2 separate regions of the Homo sapiens genome follow, and region 1 is linked to region 2. The links come from fine-mapping of genetic effects on gene expression. A gene starts in region 2. The other region holds a variant in brackets. All regions are shown on one strand. Distances are from middle to middle.

Region 1 (9,913 bases), 62 kb after region 2:
TAGGGTCTGGCTATGTTGCCCAGGCTGGTCTTGAACTCCTGGGCTCAAGCACGATCCTCTTGCCTTTGCCTCCCAAAGTGGTGGGATTACAGGAGTGAGCCACCACGCTCAGGCGAGAATCAACATTATTAATGAAGAAAATGACAGATAAGCAAAGCCTAAGGAGATTTGGGGAGGGAAAAAGAAATTTGCCAAATCAGATTACATGTTGAATTTGTTAATGGATTTTACTACTAGGTATATTGTGTAGGGAGATAACAATAAGGAGGAAAACCTTGGGAATTCTGATGTAAAGAAACGATTTTAGAAAAAAAGCAGACAGATAAAACAAAGACAGTGTAACTGCCAGAAAGGGTTTCTTGTAAAAGAAAAAAAAGTCAATGAATGTTTCATATCTGATATGTTTTCACTACTTTTTATGGAAATGTGAATTCTATTATTATTTAAGATTCATTCCTTGCCAGCAGATAGCCAAATATAAATCCCATCTGAATAACAATAATTACTACTGCTACTACATATTTTAATGACCATTTACTATGTATACCACATACTGTGCTAAGTGATTTGCATACATTGTTTTCTATAATCCTTACATTTCTTATATAAAAACATAATGCCTTTAGCAATAATACAGTTGACATAGGCCTTATCAAAAAGAGCATTTTTGGGGGTTTCCCTTTTTAGTTTGATTATAAATAAGTATAATCAACGAAAAATGCACTGCAATTCCACATAAGTATGTTCGGTTGTTTTGAATAATTTGAAATTTAGGCCACAAATGTAATTCAGCCTCTTAGTCAAAAGGTTATTACTTTTTTTTTCCCCCTAGATGGAGTCTTGCTCTGTCACCTAGGTTGCAGTGCAGTGGCGTGATCTTGGCTCACTGCAACCTCCGCCTCCTGTGTTCAAGCAATTCTCCTGCCTCAGCCTCCCAAGTAGCTGGGATTACAGTTGGGTGGGATTACCACCACACCCAACTAATTTTTGTATTTTCAGTAGAGACGGGGTTTCACCATGTTGGCCAGGCTGGTCTCGAACTCCTGACCTTGTGATCCACCCGCCTCGGCCTCCCAAAGTGCTGGGATTACAGGCGTGAGCCACCTTGTCTGGCCAAGAGGTTATTACTTTTAAAGGTGTTTGTTCCTTATTTTATAAGAATGGCCATATTTAAAGCATAAAGATTCAAAATATAATTAAGAACTAATTAATTAGTCCTGGTCCTAGGGGATGAGAATGGGGGAAAAGTCTGTTTCTAAAACAAGAAAAAAGCTTCCCTCTCTCCACCTCCCACCAAAATGCCCTTTAGGGCAAACTTCCTGGATTTGTCACTTGGGTTAAATTTATTGGAAAATGTGTGTATGACACTACCTATTATCACTTTGTGAGAACTTTATTTTTTAAAGTGAGTATTCTGTCTATGCACAATTATTCCCTATTAGCACTTCTTTGCTCTTAATTGAGGATCTATATTCTTGATGTTTGTAACTTCTATAGATATTCTATGTAGAGTTCTTTTGAGGGATAAGAATAAGGAATCTTCTGGCCGGGTGTGGTAGCTCACGCCTGTAATCCCAGCACTTTGGGAGGCCGAGGCAGGCAGATCACGAGGTCAGGAGATCGAGACCATCCTGGCTAACACAGTGAAACTCCGTCTCTACTAAAAATACAAAAAATTAGCTGGGCATGGTGGTGGGCGCCTGTAGTCCCAGCTACTCAGGAGGCTGAGGCAGGAGAATGGCGTGAACCTGGGAGGCACAGCTTGCAGTGAGCCAAGATAGCGCCACTGCACTCCAGCCTGGGTGACAGAGCAAGACTCCGTCTCAAAAAAAAGAAAAAAAAAAAAAAGAATAAGGAATCTTCTGTCCCTTAATCCCATCCTCATAGTCCAGAGGCACTTACTTTTCTCAAACGAAGGAATCACAGGCTCACTGGTGCTTGTGTTTGCTATTGGCTCTATTGATGGGCAGTGTAATTCACCATTTCCCATGGAGCAGGAGCAGCAACCTATATCAATCAAATAGTATGTGAGAGTAGAGCCCAACCACAACAGAAATGGACAATTTTAAGAAATGCCAAAGAAAACAAAACAAAATCCACTCACACACACTTCCCATGTAGCCTCAATAGTTTTCACATGGTATCTATCCAAAAGTATTCAAATGTTCTCACTCATATACAAAATAAAAAAAACTTAATCTCATAGAAGCACTGAATGTGGCCAGGCATGGTAGCTTACACCTGTTGCTTCAGGAGGCTGAGGTGGCAGGATCACTTAAGGCTAGGATTTTGTTTTGTTTTGTTCTGTTTTTTTGTTTTTTGAGGTGGAGTCTCACTCTGTTGCCCAGGCTGGAGTGCAGTGGCGCAATCTCGGCTCACTGCAACCTCCGCCTCCTGGGTTCAAGCGATTGTCCCGCCTCAGCTTCCGAGTAGCTGGGATTACAGGCACCTGCCACCAGGCCCAGCTAATTTTTGAATTTTTAGTAGAGACAGGGTTTCACCATGCTGGCCAGGCTGGTCTAGAACTCCCGACCTCAGGCGATCTGCCCGCCTCGGCCTCCCAAAGTGCTGGGATTACAAGTGTGAGCCACCATGCCCAGCCGAGGCTAGGAACCTAAGATCAGCCTGGGTAATACAGCAAGACTCTGTCTTTACAAAAAGCTTTTTAAAAAATAGCTGGGCATGCTGGCATATGGCTATAGTACAGCTTCTTGGGAGGATGAGGTGGGAGGACTGCTTGAGTCCAGGAGTTTGAGATTACAGGGAGCAGTCACGCTCCAGCCTGGGGAAAGAAGGAAGGAAGGAAGGAAGGAGGGAGGGAAGAAGGGAAGGAGGGAAGGAGGGAGGGAGGGAAGGAAGGGAAAGGAAGGAAAGGAAAGGAAGGGAAGAAAGGGAAGGGAAGGAAGGAAAAGGAAGGAAGGGAGAGGAAGGAAGGGAAAGGAAGGAAAGGGAAGGAAAGGGAAGGAAGGGAAGGGAAGGAAGGGAAAGGAAGGAAAAGAAAGGAAGGAAAAGGAAGGAAGGGAAGGAAGGGAAAGGAAGGAAGAGAAGGAAGGGAAAGGAAGGAAGGATGAGTAGTGGGTACCGGATACTTGGGCAGGTAGGGGGTGGCAGGGATGGGGTCAACAGGTACAAAGTTACATTAGAATAAGTTCTAGTGCCCTATCATACAGTATGGTGGCTATAGTCAACAAAGATACTGTACATCTCAAAATAGAAGAGAGGATTTTGTATGTTCCTACAACAAAGAAATTATACATTTTGAAGTGATAGATATGCTAATTACCCTGATTTGATCATTACACAATGATCTCCAGCCTGGGCAACAGAGCGAGACTCCATCTCAAAAAAATAAAAATAAAAATAACAACAACAACAACAACAAAAACACAAACAAATGACCAAACAGAGAAATTAGTGAGCTTCGGTTTTAAAGGCCCTGAAGAGAAGTGATAACATGAGTGCCGAGTGCTGGACGGACCAAAGAATGGAAGGTTCACTGGGTAGCTCAGGCAGCTGCAGGGAGAGGTGGCAGAATAGGCTCGGAGAGGGAATATGGCTGGCAGTGGAAGGGCTTGGGCACTACGTGCAGCGCTTTGGGCATCACGGGCACTGCAAGGCCCTTGCAGCCTCTGAAGCAGGAGCCTGATGTGGCCAGAACTCCGTGAGGAAGGTTAATTTGGCCATTTCCCTTATAAAACAGACTGGACCAGAGTGACAAGAAACAGGAAGTTCAGTTAGGAGGGAATTACAAGAATCCAGCAGAGAGACTGGAGGCCCAAGTCGGGAGATGGGAGGTCAGGGGGAGGAGGGGGACCCTGCAGAGGGAGAACTCCACGCCCTGAATGGCTAATTCACCTCAAGGGGAAACAGCAGAGATGTTGCTGAGCTGGGAAGTTCTAAAGAATGATGGAACCACTAAAAGAAAGATAATTGTTTGTTTAAAAAGCTCCAGTACCTTTGACAAAGAGAACAAGTGCTGTCCACGTATTCAGAAAGAGACGTAAATAATTTTTTATTTTTTTTTTAGATGAAGTTTCGCTCTGTCACCCAGGCTGGAGTGCAGTGGCACAATCTTGGCTCACTGCAACCTCTGCCTCCCAGGTTCAAGCGATTCTCATGCCTCAGCCTCCCGAGTAGCTGGGTCTACAGGCGTCTGCCACCACAGCCTGGCAAATTCTTGTATTTTTAGTAGAGACGGGGTTTCACCATGTTGGCCAGGCTGGTCTCAAACACCTGACCTCAAGTGATCTGCTTGCCTTGGCTTCCCAAAGTTCTGGGATTACAGGTGTGAGCCACCACGCCTGGCTGAGATATAAATAATATATGTGTAGACAGCAGGAAATCTGGGATTGGATCTGTATAAAGGGGTCAGGTTAGAGATGCAACATTAGGAACAAAGTACAAAGGGTTCACATTAAAGCCATGGGAACTTACCTATTTCCTGTGACCCAGGAATTACCATCCTAGGTATAATTTTTTTTTTTTTTTGAGACAGTGTCTC[G/T]CTCCGTTTCCCAGGCCAGAGTGCAGTGGTGCACTCTTGGCTCACTGCAGCCTCTGCTTTCCAGGCTCTGGTGATCCTCCCACCTCAGCCTCCTGAGTAGCTCGGACTACAGGCACATGCTACCATGCCTAGCTAATTTTTTATTTTTTGTAGAGATGGGTTTTGCCATGTTGCCCAGGCTGGTCTCCAACTCCTGAGCTTAGGCAATTCACCTGCCTCAGCCTCCCAAAGTGCTAGAATTACAGGTGTGAAACACTGCACTCAGCAACATCCTAGGTATAATCTTGATGTATCTTGATGTATACTCAAGGAGATGTGAATAAAGCTGTACATTACAGCATTGTTTCTAATAGCAAAATATTTTAAAGCAACTTAATCCATCAATAAGGAAATTAATAAATAAAATTTGGTATATGCATATCATTGATTACATCTACAAAATGAATTCAAAAATATTGAGTGCAAGAAGACAACTACAGTATAAGATTTATATAAAAATGTAAAAGCATATAAAAATACTATATATTGTTGATGGAAAACCACACATATTGTAAAAGTATAGTAAAATTGTGCTCTGGAAGGATACAATCCAAATTCATAATAGTGGTTACTTCTGGAGTTAACAGGAATGAAAGATTCTAACAAACATTCTGACTTTATTGGTAAGTTTTATTTCTTTTAAAAAAGAAAACTGGGCCAGGCGCAGTGGCTCATGCCTGTATTCCCAGCACTTTGGGAGGCTGACGCAGGCAGATCACTTGAGGTCAGAAGTTCGAGACCAGCCTGGCCAACATGGTGAAAACCCACCTCTACTAAAAATACAAAAATTAGCCAGGCATGGTGGCACACACCTGTAGACCCGGCTACTTGGGAAGCTGAAGAGGGAGGATTACTTGAACCCAGGAGGTGGAAGCTGCAGTGTGCCAAGACTGCTCCACTGCGCTCCAGCCTGAGAGACAGAGAAAGACTTTGTTTCAAAAGAAGAGAAGAGAAAGACTTTGTTTCAAAAGAAGAGAAGAAGAGAAGAGAAGCACCATACAATAAATAAGTTAATATATTTGATTACAAATCAAGACACAAAGAAATCTCAGTCCTGATAGGCTTAGGCAAATACTGAAGTCCTGTCTTAGACTTTTTTTGAGACAGAGTCTTGCTCTGTCACCCAGACTGGAATGCAGTGGCACGATCTCAGCTCACTGCAACCTCTGCCTCCCTGGTTCAAGCGATTCTTCTGCCTCAGCCTCTGGAGTAGCTGGGATTACAGGCACCCGCCACCACACCTAGCTAATTTTTGTATTTTTAGTAGAGATGGTGTTTCACCATGTTAGCCAGGCTGATCTCAAACTCCTGACCTTGTGATCCGCCCACCTCAGCCTCCCAAAGTTCTGGGATTAGAGGTGTGAGCCACCGCACCAGGCCTTGACTTTTTTTTTAAAGACAGGATCACGTCTATTGCCCAGGCTGGATTGCTGTGGCGTGACCATGGCTCACTGCAGCTTCGACCTCCTGGGCTCAAGCAATCCTCCTGCCTCAGCCTCCTGAGTAGCTAGGACTACAGGTGTGTACCACCACATCCAGCTAATTTTTTATTTTTTGTAGAGTCAGGGTCTCACTATGTTGCCCAGGCTGGTCTTGAACTCCTGGGCTCAAGCAATCCTTCCAAAGTGCTGGGGTTACAGGTGTGAGCAACCATACCCAGCTTTGTCCTAGACTTTTAAAAGCCAGATGCAAAAATTCAGGATTGGAGAGAAACTGTTCAGTAATGTACTCGGGGTGGGAGGCAGGTTTTTAGTTGCTCATAAATTCAAGATGAAATCATCAGAATAAGTTAATGCAATGTTAGGCAGAATTAAAAGTTTCTTTTCTAAGTAAGGACAGGAATGATTCTCTTATTCTTCACTCAGTCAACAAGCATTCATCAAATATTGAATGCTCACTGTGTCCTAGGACCATGGTAACTGGAATGTTATATTCAGATCTAAGCATCCCATTTTAAGAGGTACACTGAGAAACTAAAATGAATCCTTGGTGTCTCATGCATCTCAAACTTAGAAGGGTCAAATTGAACTCATTATCTTCCCCTACATATTCTGTTCTCTGTGAATTCTTCTTAGGTAATACCCACAATTATACATTCACTTAAACTAGATTTCTGGAAGTTGTTCTCAGTTTCTCTCTTAGCCCTCACCCAGCTTCTAATCAAGTACCAAACCCTGTCAATACAACTTTGCCTGAGTTTGGCCTCTCCTGTTTATCCAATACCTACTGCCTTAGTATAGGCCCCAAAGACTCAACTCTGCCATTATAGCATGAAGGTAGCCATAGATGATATATAAATGAATGAGCATGGCTATGTTTCAATAAAATTATGGACATGAAATTAAAATTTCATGTAGTTTTTAAGAGTCACGAAGTATTTGTCTTCTTTTAATTTTTCTTCAACCCTTTAAAAATGTAAAAAACATTTTTAGGCTGGGTGCAGTGGCTCACACCTGTAATCCCAGCACATTGGGAGGCCGAGGCGGGTGGATCACCTGAGGTCAGGAGTTCTAGACCAGCCTGACCAATATGGTGAAACCCCATCTCTACTAAAAATACAAAAATTAGCCAGGCGTGGTGGCGTGCGACTGTAGTCTCAGCTACTGGGGAGGCTGAGACAGGCGAATTGCTTGAACCCAGGAGGTAGAGGTTACGGTGAGCCAAGGGTACTGCACTCCACCCTGGGTAACAGAGCGAGACTCTGTGGCAAAAATAAATAAATAAACAAACAAAGAAAAAAAACATTTTTAGCTGGTGGACCATACAAAAACAGGTGGTGGGCCAGATTTGGCCTATGGACTATAGTTTGCCCAAAACTGACTTACATCATTAATCTGGCTTTAAACAGGCCTCCTTTAGTTCATATTATTGATGGTGCTTGCCTGATACAATATTGTTAAATTAACTTATGTATGTGCTTCGTTTCCTAGTTAGGGCCTTCCTTCAGTTGTTACTTTTTTCTATATTCTCAGGTCCAGGGAAGTTTTAGGATTTAACAAAAGTGTATACTCACAATAAGACTTATAAACAAAAATCTAATGAATAATTTTACAAGCAAGTTTGTTGACTATGATTCAAATTCTTCATTTGACAAGCACTCATGATATTCAAACTAGTTCAAGGAAGTTTCCCATAAACAAAACATTTAGGATACATGCTATAAAGGCATGTAGCAGTTTCTTTATATTTAAAGATCAGGCTGGCTCATGCCTGTAATCCCAGCACTGTGGGAGGCCGAGGCGGGTGAATCGCCTGAGCTCAGCAGGTCGAGACCAGCCTGGGCAACATGGCGAAACCCCATCTCTACTAAAAATACAAAAATTAGCAGGGCATGGTGGCAGGCACCTGTAGTCCTAGCTACTCTGGAGGCTCAGGTGGCAGAATCGCTTAAACACAGGAGGCGGAGGTTGCAGTGAGCTGAGATCATGCCACTGCACTCCAGCCGGGATGATAGAGCAAGATTCTGTCTCAAATAAATAAAAATAAAATTAAAAAGATCATACTTGTTTCTGGAATAGAGCTTGTAAAAAGTTCTGGTTCATTTACTGGTGCTGGACTCTCCTCAAAAGCAGTATTTCCAGGCTCCACCACTTTGTGGCTCTGAGACTGATCGAAACCTTCATAGCTTCCTGCTTGGGCAGTCTGGTTCATGCACATGAGGGATATGCCAGCTATCAGGATGCTGCAGAACAGGGTGACTGCTGTGGTGATCATCTGCCGACATGAAAAAAAGATATCAGGCCACTTTTCACAACTTCATCTTGATAATCTTAGGGCACATTTTTTTTTTTTTTTTTTTTTTTTGAGATGGAGTCTTGCTCTGTCGCCCAGGCTGGAGTGCAGTGACACAATCTCGGCTCACTGCAACCTCTTCCTCCCAGGTTCACGCCATTCTCCTGCCTCAGCCTCCCAAGTAGCTGGGAATACAGGCGCCCGCCACCACAACCCAGCTAATTTTTTGTATTTTTTAGTAGAGACAGGGTTTCACCGTGTTAGCCAGGATGGTCTCAATCTTCTGATCTCGTGACCCACCCGCCTCGGCCTCCCAAACTGCTGGGATTACAGGTGTAAGCCACCGCACCCAGCCATCTTAGGGCACGTTTTTGATGGACAATATATCTCCACAGTTTTAAATACTCTAGAACAGTAGCTCTTTTAAAAAGGTAAGTGTATATAAGGAATGTAAGTTACTTGGAGAGAAATTAGGGTTTGCTTGTAATTACACAAGGTTTTAGATGCTTCTTTCATGTATAACAATTGGTTACCAACACAGCCACTGGTTTCCTTTACAAGGAATCTAAATGATTTCTCTCCGATGTTTTCTTTACTCCTGTTTCTGCTCACTTCCACGTATAATTCACGCATACTTCAGTCACTAAGATGTTTTTATGGTAATGATATTAAAAATAATTATAGCTAATATTTATTGAGCACTAACCAGATGCCAAGACTACTCTAAATCTTTTATATGTATAATCTTATTTATTCTCACAAAAACACAATAAAATCCAAAATTGCAAAACAGAAAAAAAGAGTAAGAAATCAAAATTATGTGGAGAGGCTTTTTAAAAACACATCTTTGGACTCCACTCCTAAAGAATTCTGCAGGTCCCACAAGCCACCTACTCTATAGCTTTTCAAGAATATTTTTCCTAGATACGTTTTGTCCTGAAATTTATATTTATGATAGGATTAAGAGTCAAGAATTTGACCTTTATTATTACTGCTAACTTATTAAATGGTTTTAAATTAATCACTCTTTTCTCCAGCACAGGAAACACAATTCCTAAGTGTGATTAAGAACATTCAATAAGTTTTAAGCATTTAGAAATCTTCAGCTAAAAATGGACTTAGACATGTAAAATGTTCATGTTCTAGATGAGACAAAGTGATATAGGATCACCAATCTGATATGCAATAAATTGAAATAGATTTTCAAAGTTAATTTTAATATAAGTCTAGCAAGGCACATAACGAGCTAAAAAGAGACATTCTCAAGAACAGAACTGCCAGTAAACTCTTCCCACCTGTTCTTTTCCATAAAAGAAGGCTGAGTCAATGCTATCTCCATTGTGTTTTCCAGTTATCAAAAGAACACCAACAAGGAGAGCAGGAATTCTGTAATCACAAGTGATATTGGGAGAGAAAAAGAAAGGATGAATAGTAACTGTCTATATGGAAAGGTGTAAGCAAACAGAGAACTACCAACTTACCCCCAGCCAGATATTATGATTATTCCAACAGGAATTTGTACCCTCTCTCGCTTTTTCAAAAGAAACAAAGAAATTGCTAGAAGGCCTAAGAATAAGAAGATTGAAAGAGAGACAGTTACTCAACATTGATCAGACTTTATGAAACTTTATTTCCTTTTTA
Region 2 (9,595 bases):
TATTGGATTTTGGACTTGCATGGGGCCTGTAGCCCCTTTGTTTTGTCCAAATTGTCCCATTGGGGATGGGTGTATTTACCCAATGCCTGTACTCCTGTTGTATCCAGGAAGTCATTAACTTGCTTTTGATTTTACAGGCTCATAGGTGGAAGGGACTTGCCTTGTCTTACATGAGACTTTGGACTTAGACATTTGAGTTAATGCTGGAATGAGTTAAGACTTTGGTTGTTAAGGGCAGGATTGTGTTTTGAAATGTGAGGACATGAGATCTGGAAGGGGCTGGGGTGGAATGGTATGGTTTGGCTGTGTCCCCACCCAATCTCATCTTGAATTGTAGTTCCCATAATCCCCGCGTATCGTGGGAGGAACCCGATGGGAGGTAACTGAATAAAAGGGGCTGTTACCTCCATGGTGTTTTCGTGATAGTGAGTGAGTTCTCAGGAAATTTGATGGATAAAACCATCAGAAAAGGAGCTTTTCCTCTTTTGCTCGGCATTTCTCCTTGCTGTCACCATGTGAAGAAAGACGTGTTTGCTTCCCCTTCTGCCATGATTTTAAGTTTCCTGAGGCCTCCCCAGCCCTGCAGAACTGCAAGTCAATTAAAATTCTTTCCTTATAAATTACCCAGTCTCAGGTATTTCTTCATAGCAGCATGAGAACAGACTAATACTAATACAAGACTAATATGGATCAGTAAACAAACACTTTCTTCTTTTGGGTGGTAAAGTTGCATATTGTGGGACTATACCATAATTTATAATTTATTTATCTCATACTGTATAAATGGGCACTTAAGAAATTTCCAGTATTTTGCTATTAAAAATTTTGCTGCAAGAACTCAATACACAGGTAATTTCACACACATTTGACAGGGTTTTGAAAAGGATCAAGGCATGGCCAAGGAAAAAAACAGGGCAAGATATAACTGGCAGAGAGAATGACTCAGGCAAAGGCCCAGAGATATAAAATAGAACGTAAGTAGTTCAATATTACTAACATATAAAATCTTAGGTTGGGCTGAGGTGGGCAGATCACCTTAAGTCAGGAGTCTGAGACCAGCCTGGCCAACATGGTGAAACTCCATCTCTACTAAAAATACAAAAATTAGCCAGGCGTGGTGGTGTGTATCTGTAATCCCAGCTACTCGGAAAGCTGAGGCAGGAGAATCACCTAAGCCTGGGAGGTAGAGGCTTCAGTGAGCTGAGACTGCATCACTGCACTCTAGCCTGGGCAACAGAGTGAGCCTCCATCTCAAAAAATAAATAAATAAATAAATCTGAGGTGGGAGAATAGTAGGAGGGGAGAAGGAGAAAAACGATGGAGTGAGATTACTTGGACTCAATCCTGTAATATTTTAATAACAGGCTGAAAGAGATCAGATTTGTGCTTAAAAAAAGACAATTCTATCGAAATAACTTACATTCATACAATGGAATATTATTTAGCAATAAAAAGGAAAAAGTACCAATACATGCCATACCATGGATAAACTTCAAAAACATTATGGTGAGAGTAGCCAGTCAAAAAAGACCACAGATTGCATGATTCCATTTAAATGAATTTCCAGAATAGGCAAATCCACTAACAGAAAGTAGATTAGTGCTTGCCTAGGGCTGGAGAGAGGGAGAAGAGTTAAGGAAAAATGGGAGTGACTAACAGGTATGCAGGTTTCTTTTTTTTTGAGTCAGTGTCTCACTGTCACCCAGGCTGGAGTGCAGTGGCGCAATCTTGGCTCACTGCAATCTCCGCCTCCCGGGTTCATGCGATTCTCCCACCTCAGCCTCCCAAGTAGCTGGGATTACAAGCGCCCGCCACCACACCCAGCTAATTTTTGTACTTTTAGTAGAGACAGGGTTTCACCATGTTGGCCAGGCTGTCTTGAATTCCTGACCTCGGGTGATCCACCCACCTCAGCCACCCAAAGTGCAGAGATTACAGGTGTGAGCCACCATGCCCAGCGGGGGTTTCTTTTTGGGGTGATGACAAAGTTCTAAAATTGTTTGTGGTAATGATTACTTAACTCCATGAATACATTTTAAAAACCACTAAATTGTACATTTTACATGGGTGTTTGTATGATATGTAAATTTATCTCAGCAGAGCTGTTAAAATGAAAAATGACTATTCTGATGGCTGTGTAGTGAATGGATTTGAGAGGACTCAAGATTGGAGGCAGTAGAACCACTTAGGAAATGCAACAATATAGGTGAAAGATGATGAGGGTCTGAATTAAGACACAAGCAGCAGTGACAGAAAGGAAAGATGGATTCAAGAGATATTTGGAAGGTAAGACCAATAGCATTCAGTGATTGACTAGATAAAGGAGTGATGGGAAAAGGGATGAATCCTGAGCTTCTGGTTTGGGCAACAGGATGAGGGACTGTTTTACTATCTATATTTCTACCCATATGAGATAGCAAGTATAAAAAGGGCTGATTTGGGGTAAAAAACTTTTATATCAGATATGTTGAGTTTGAGGTGCCTATAGGACATCAAGATGCAAATGTCTAGTAGATAGCTGTCTTGAGCCACATCAAAGTTAAGAAGAGAAAACTGGGACTGCAGATTTGAGTCATGAGTAAACAGGCTAGTTAAAACAGGCTAGTTGGATGTGATTGCTTGGGGCAAGCATACTAAGTAAGCAAGAAGTGGGCCAAGGATGAAACTCTGGGGAACACTTATATTTTAGGAGCAGGCTAAGAATAAAGATCCAGTGAAGTTGATGGGAAAAGAACAGTCTAATAAGAGAGCTGGAAAACTAGAAGAGAGTAGTTATTACAGCTAAGGGAACAGAGAGTTTCACAAAAAAGGGAGTTTACAGTGATGCAATTGTCAATAGCCAGTTTATGAACTGTTTGCCAGTCCACAAGAAGACTAAAGAGCTTGGACCACAATGTAAATTAACTGCTTCCTTCATTAACAAAATCAAGAAAAAAAAAGAACAGCTGAACAAAACAGTGTATCCTGTGACATAAATGATTGAGGCAGCGCATAACAATACACAACAGAGTGACCAGCAGATATACAGCATTCACTCTTATTTTTGGTGAACAAATGAGACCTTAAAACCTACTGGACTTTTTATAAGCTTGGGAAACTGAAAACAAACAAGGAAAAAAAGAACCTACTGGACTTTAATAAACCCAACATGCCTAATTTTACAATTAGAATTTTCTTTCTTTCTTTTTAAATATAGATGGGGTCTCACTTTGTTGCCTATGCTGGTCTTGAATTCCTGGCCTCTCAAAGTGCTGGAATTATAGGTATGAGCCACCATACCTGGCCCTTAAAATTTTCATGGTGGAACTCTTTTGCACTCTTTGATCAAACTCCTTTGTTTCTTCCACTTCTATTAAAAAAAAAAAAAAACTTTACTGGAGTATGACATATAAAAAGCTGTACATATTTAATGTATACAACCTGAGTTTGGTGACAAGTATATCCCTGTGAAACCATCATCACAATCTACACTATAAACATATCCATCACCTCCAAAAGTTTCCTCCTACCCTAATAAATTTTTCTATTTATCTTCATTTAATATAGTTCCTTTATCCTTAGTTAATAAAGAATGCTAGAGGTCACCCCCTCTCCCCATAAAGTGTTAACTATCTAGAAAGGTCTGCTAATCAAAAACATTTCATTCTTCTCCTCTATCCTGGGAAAAGTATAAAACAGATCAAAGAGGCCAACAATATTTGGTACATTTTACATAACACTTTACACAGATGAGAAGAATGTAGGTTCTAAGCCTATAACTGCTTTACTGAATTTCTCATAGCGGACTTGCAAAAGTTATTCTCTGTGGATTTCTTTTTTCTTGTAAGAAAGCTGATACATTGAAATTTATAAAGCGAAATGTCAAAAGTTCCAGTAAAAAATTATGATTTCTCAGGTATATTTGTCTCTAAATATAAACAGCAAATAAGCAAGCACCTGAATTCCATCTAATCTCTTCATTCTTGTAAAAATAGTAACAGCTGACCCCCTAAGTATGCAGAGAAAGGAAATGTCTGTGTTTGGTGTCAAAAGTTATTGAGCCAACCAAATACAAGAAACCTCTCCCTCCCACAGTTGCAACCACACAAACACAAACTGGTGCAGTGGAAAAAAAATCACTGGGTTAATCAGGTGTTCCAGATCCTAGTTCTGGTACAACATTTAACTAGCTGTGTAACTCTTGGCAAATTTGTTTCCTCATTTATAAAATGAGGAGATGGGGCTGGATGATTACCAAAGAGCTTTCAAGGTGTATCTGTGTTATTAAAATTTCATGGGGGAGTTATTAAGAAAAAATGTTTAATAAGACTCCTTAGGAAGGTAACAGTGAAAAAAAAGTTGAGAATCACTGGTCTAGAAGTGAGAGTATATAGCAGTATCTCATCACCTCAACTCGTTCTAAAAACAAATAAAAGCTTAGTTATTTTCACAAGTTTCTATGTAGGGGCAATCAACATTTTATTGAGCACCTCCTCTCTGTAGTGGACACAGTGATAGATGCCTACGTTGTTTCAAATCCTTTATCTTCACTATTTCACTTAATCCTCACAATTAAGTCAATCATCCTTAATTTACAGATTAGAAGACTGAGGGTCAGATATTACAAATATTTTGTGCAAGGTCTTAAGGCTAAAAGTGACTGCTCGAATAACTAGAATCCAGGTTTGACTCCAAAGCTGATTCTTTCTACTTCACTCTTTTGCTTTTCATTACTATGATATTCACCAAAGTATTACAACTGGTAGACCTGTAATTATGTAAAACACTAAACTTCAACGAGTTTAGTCATCAAAAAGACACTAGATTATTAGGTAATTTTTTTAAAGATCTATCTTAAGTAAACGGGGAGGCTTCTTTGTACAGAAAAGTAGAGTTCAGAAGCCGTGATCCCTGGGATCCGAAAAGACAAAAAACCAGAATCAGCTGAAGGAAGTACTGAGGAATTTTGACATTAGTCTTCGCATATTATGGATTTGCATTCTGGCCGACAAAGATTCTCTAGGCCACCGGTCTCCTCGCTGTTGCAGAATAAACGCTGAGGACCCGCTGCGTCAGCGAGCTGCTCAGCAGAGAAAGGCGAGACCACCAGGGCTTTAGGCCTAGAGAAGCGGAGGCTGTCCTAGGGATCTCAGAGACACCATCACTTTCACTTCCAGCAGCCTCTGGGAAGGCGGTCCCTGTGGGCCTAATCCCTCCCCGGGTCTGTTTACTCACTTTTTTGATATTGGATTTGGAGGCAGGATGAAAGTCTTTCTTGCACATGAAGTTGGCGAAGGATTTCCCCATCTTGGAACTGGAACTAGGGAAAGCAGGGGCTAGATCTGTTAGCAACGTAAACAAACTCAGCCGCCTAACCGGAACTGCGTTTCCAGCAGCAAGGGGGAACTTCCGAGATCAAAGGTGACAGCTTCCGGCAACTGATGCCTCCACTGGCCACTCCTCCCTCCGTCCACCTGTCACTTCGGGTAGCTGGGAGGCCAGGTGAGGGGCGCGCACGGGGGAGGGGCGTGCATAGTTGAGACAGAAACCCGGAAGACCCAACTGTGGCGCGGCACTGCTTGACCGAGGGGCTCCGGAGCCCAGCTGCACCGGCTGCGGTTTGAGCGCCCAGGGCCGGGGTGCGGGGTGGACCGCGGCGGCCCTTCGACCAAAGGTGCTTGAAGCTCGAGCCCATTACTTTCTGTGGACTCTGACTCGAGCTGCAAAAGCTTTTCTGCACTGTTTTTCTCATCTATGTTATGAAGATAATAATTCCGGCCCTAACCGTAGTATGCTTGCGAGAATCCAACAATATGATGTTTCTGAAAGCGCCGGCTGAACTAAGAGCGCGTGAAATAGAATGACAGACAGCTCTGCAAGAACGGAGGCCCTGTCTATTTTGTACCCAGCTGTACGGTACTGGCGCCGAAAGACGTTCAATAAATACTTATTGAATGACGAATACGCGTTAGGAGTTGGTAAAATCTCTCAAGGCTTCACCTCCTCAGTGGGCTAGGTGCAATTCTAACCAGGGGGCAAGTTTCCTTAGCTTTCCCTACGACCCCAGTTAGGCAGCTCAGGTTACTATTGCAGCTTGATGGCCCTTGGGACTCCAGGTTTTTGAGTGGACGTGGCTGCTACTGCAGCAGGTGATCCACCAACCAAGTTCTCTATCAGGGTAATGTTAAGAATAAACCTTGGCCGGGCGCGGTAGCTCACGCCTGTAATCCCAGCACTTTGGGAGGCCAAGGTGGGTGGATCACCTGAGGTCAGGAGTTCAAGACCAGCCTGGCCAACATGGTGAAACCCCGTCTCTACTAAAAACACGAAAAATTAGCCGGGTGTGGTGGCACGCGCCTGTAATCCCAGCTACTCGGGAGGTTGAGGCAGGAGAATCACTTGAACGCGGGAGGCGGAGGTTGCAGTGAGCCAAGACTGCTCCATTGCACTCCAGCCCGGGCAACAAGAGTTAAACTCCATCAAAAAAAAAAAACAAAAAACGAATAAGCCTTTATGAGAAATTTTCTCTCCTACCAAATAATAACAATAACAGCTTTCATGTGAGTATCTACTATGTTCTATGCACTGTGCAAAACACTTTACGTGTTGCCTTATTAAGTTCTCATAACAGCCCATCAAATAGTGTCTTATTTTTCTGATGAGGCAGAAGGCATAGGTAAGAGAGAGATTAAATAGTCTGCCAAAGTTATATAGTGATAGAACTAACTATAAAACACAAATAGAAGGAGATCCAGGACATAAGAGTTGAAATACAGAAAGAAAATAACAGAAGCCATCAAGACATCAGACTTCTCGTCACTGAGGAGAAGAGGAAAACCCTTAAGAGTTTCAGTCTGAAGTTTTTATTTAGTCATTTTCTTTTCTTTTTAAGGAAACATTTATTATATTTAAATTTTGTTTTTAAGTTGCTAGCATCTGCCTGTGTAAAGCCATTTTAAGGTTTTGCCATTATTAAAGGAAAGAAGGAAACTCTGTAAAACAATGTGTCTGTTCTGGCAGCAAAATAAGGACCTTTAGGTGTTCTATTATAAGTGAAGATCTAAGATTTTCCAAGTTACAACTGAAGAGGTAATCTAGATATTAAAGTATATAATTGCGATTTATAAATTAAATATGTGAACTTTCTCCTAGAAATATCAGCAATTTGGAATTATATTGACATATTTTTGTCTGAATCAATGAGTCTGTTTCAAAATTTCAGTCTCATCAGAATTATAATGTGTATTATTTCCCAGCTCAAATAAGACCCCTTCTTCCTTCCTTTGAGGAAGTACTGGGCACGTAAGATTTTTTTCCATAAGACAAGTTCCAGCAAAGAGAATATAAAGATTAGTAAGACATACTCCCAGCCCTCAAGGATCTCATTGTCCAGTAAAGGGATTTATATATACACGAATGTAATGGAATCTAGCCTTTACAACAATAGAGCTAGGTACACGGATTCCCAAATATGGAAATGGTGAAACGAAATTCAGGGAAGACTTTAGGAGAGAAAGGTCTTAGAGAATAAATGTGAACTATACAGTAGAAGAAGGTAGTTCTCATTGCCATTTTCTTACTGAGTTGTAGTACCAGATTGAGTCCCAAGTCATATTCTTACTGATTTTTAGGCTGTAGTATACAAAATTTAAAACTTTAATGAACAGCCAAGCACGGTCACTCATGCCTGTAATCCCAGGGCTTTGGGAGGCAGAAGGGGGAGGATCTCCTGAGCCCAGGAGTTCCAGGCTGCAGTAAGCCCTGATCATACAACTGCACTCCAGCCTGGGTGAAAGAGCTAGACCTTGTCTCCAAAAAATAAAAATAAAAAAATCAAAGCTTTAATGAACATCCTTAATTAGATATGGCAATAATATCCTTTGGTCATTGAGTAAAACTCTTTATTTTTATATACTTAAAAGTGTTCTTTTTATTTTAAAACATCTGTATAATTTTTAGTTAAAAAAAATGGAACCTTTTTCCTGTGACACTTTCGTGGCATTACCTCCAGCAACAGTCGATAACAGGATTATTTTTGGAAAAAATTCAGATAGACTCTATGATGAAGTACAAGAGGTGGTTTATTTTCCTGCTGTAGTTCATGATAACCTGGGAGAACGTCTTAAGGTAGGTGAAATAAATGTTTTGTTAGCAATATGCCTTTTAAAAATATCATAAAGTTATTTCTATACATAGCAATTTGGAAGAAACTGTAGAAGTTAAAATTGAGGAGTTTACATTTGAAAAATAAATGAGTCAGAAATAAACTGTGATCTTTTATTTCAGTGATTCGGAGGACGTTGAAATAACAATAATAAAATTATCCATTGTTTGAATAAATATTTGAATGCTTTCCATATGCAAGCATGTTAGATAGGGCAAGAGATTTAAAGTCAGCTGTCAAGACTCTGTTCCAGGAGCTTAGAGTCTAGTATAGCAATAAGATGTGTATGCATTATACCCCATTATAAAATAGGATGGTTTAAATGCTAAATTTAAGTAACAGTAGCATGCTGTGGCAGCGGAAGAGAATGAACATTTAATTCAGCTTGGAGTTAGCTGGAATTTGATGGACAAAAAGGATTCTGATTCTGAATTGGCTTAGGTTCTACTTGATGTAGAATAGGAAAGTCATCCCAGACTTTAGGAATGACAGTTTTATGACACATCAAAAAAGGTTTATTAGGCCCTATGTTAACACTATCAATATACATTTTATGCAGTCACTTGGTAGTATACACATTAATTAAAGGATCCTTTAAAAACTTATTTTAAAAACCCATTTAATGTGGAACTTAAAATGAGAGCTTCAAATTATGCTATTGTTGCTAATTCATACTTTTTAGATTTTATTTTATTGATATTCTAATATTAAAACATATTAAATATTAGACTTTTTTCTGTATCCTATGCCATATTTTTTTCTTTTGCTAAGACCACTTATTCATCTGTGATACCACTTCCACTTTATTTCTTCATATTTAAATATAGCCTGTCCTGTAAACCAGTGGTTCTCATTCTTTTCATTGCTGTGGGCATACCTAATGGTTGACTTCAAAATGTGATGTGAGATTCCTATGACAAAACTCTTGTATTCGAAGGCTACCATGTGAGTAATTATATCACTAATCAAGAAACACTGGATATTGAGGTTGAGAACTACTTCCTTAAGCTTCAACTCACACATCTACAAAAATGTTTCAAGATATTACAGCTAGAGACCATCTTTCTCCTGAGCTCCAATAGCACCTTGTCTTCACTTCATGACCCTAATACTTTATACTTTATTTTATCTTAATGTAGAAGTTTTAGTTTCTCAAAAGTGAGATCTTTATCTGATTCATCTTTGTAACTAACATATCTCTTGGCAGAATGTTTTATAATAGGAAATGCTCAGCAAATATTTGAATGAATAAATATTTTAGGGTTATTCTGAATATGTTTTAAGGGTAATGCCTTTATTATTGAAAATTTCAATTTACTTATATTTCCTTTACCTCTTTCATAACAGTTTTGTCTTCTGACTGATTTTTTTAAATTCTGGATTTTGATAACTTTTCTGGTTTTGTGGTTCTTGCTATGACTTTTTTTTTTTTTTTTTTACAGTGTACATATA

Which allele goes with the higher level. Alleles are on the strand shown, and positions count from the first base shown. SD is a standard deviation of normalised expression in the study named.
For the expression in stomach of the gene that starts at base 5,376 in region 2, G is the low allele of the variant in region 1 and T is the other (small effect, 0.21 SD a copy in GTEx).

The links. PIP is the estimated chance that this variant, and not a neighbour inherited with it, causes the effect.
Region 1: its variant is the best candidate, but not a certain one, in a credible set for the expression of CIRSR in stomach (GTEx, PIP 0.53).

Annotation. Positions count from the first base shown.
Region 1 is chr2:174,451,835-174,461,747 of GRCh38, forward strand. It overlaps GPR155 (G protein-coupled receptor 155), which reads right to left. Exons shown (of 16, transcript NM_152529.7): 8 at 9,754-9,838; 9 at 9,568-9,658; 10 at 8,044-8,254; 11 at 1,903-2,007. Among named protein-coding and RNA genes, the nearest start is that of GPR155, 30 kb to the right of the region's middle. The variant G/T (reference allele first, on the strand shown) is at 4,502.
Region 2 is chr2:174,390,337-174,399,931 of GRCh38, forward strand. It overlaps CIRSR (corepressor of RBPJ and splicing regulator), which reads right to left and starts at 5,376. Exons shown (of 10, transcript NM_004882.4): 1 at 5,215-5,376. The coding sequence starts at 5,286. SCRN3 (secernin 3) reads left to right here and starts at 5,394. Exons shown (of 8, transcript NM_024583.5): 1 at 5,394-5,481; 2 at 7,939-8,106; 3 at 9,586-9,595. The coding sequence starts at 7,948. RefSeq lists a silencer at 1,724-1,888 and enhancers at 5,275-5,324, 5,822-6,322.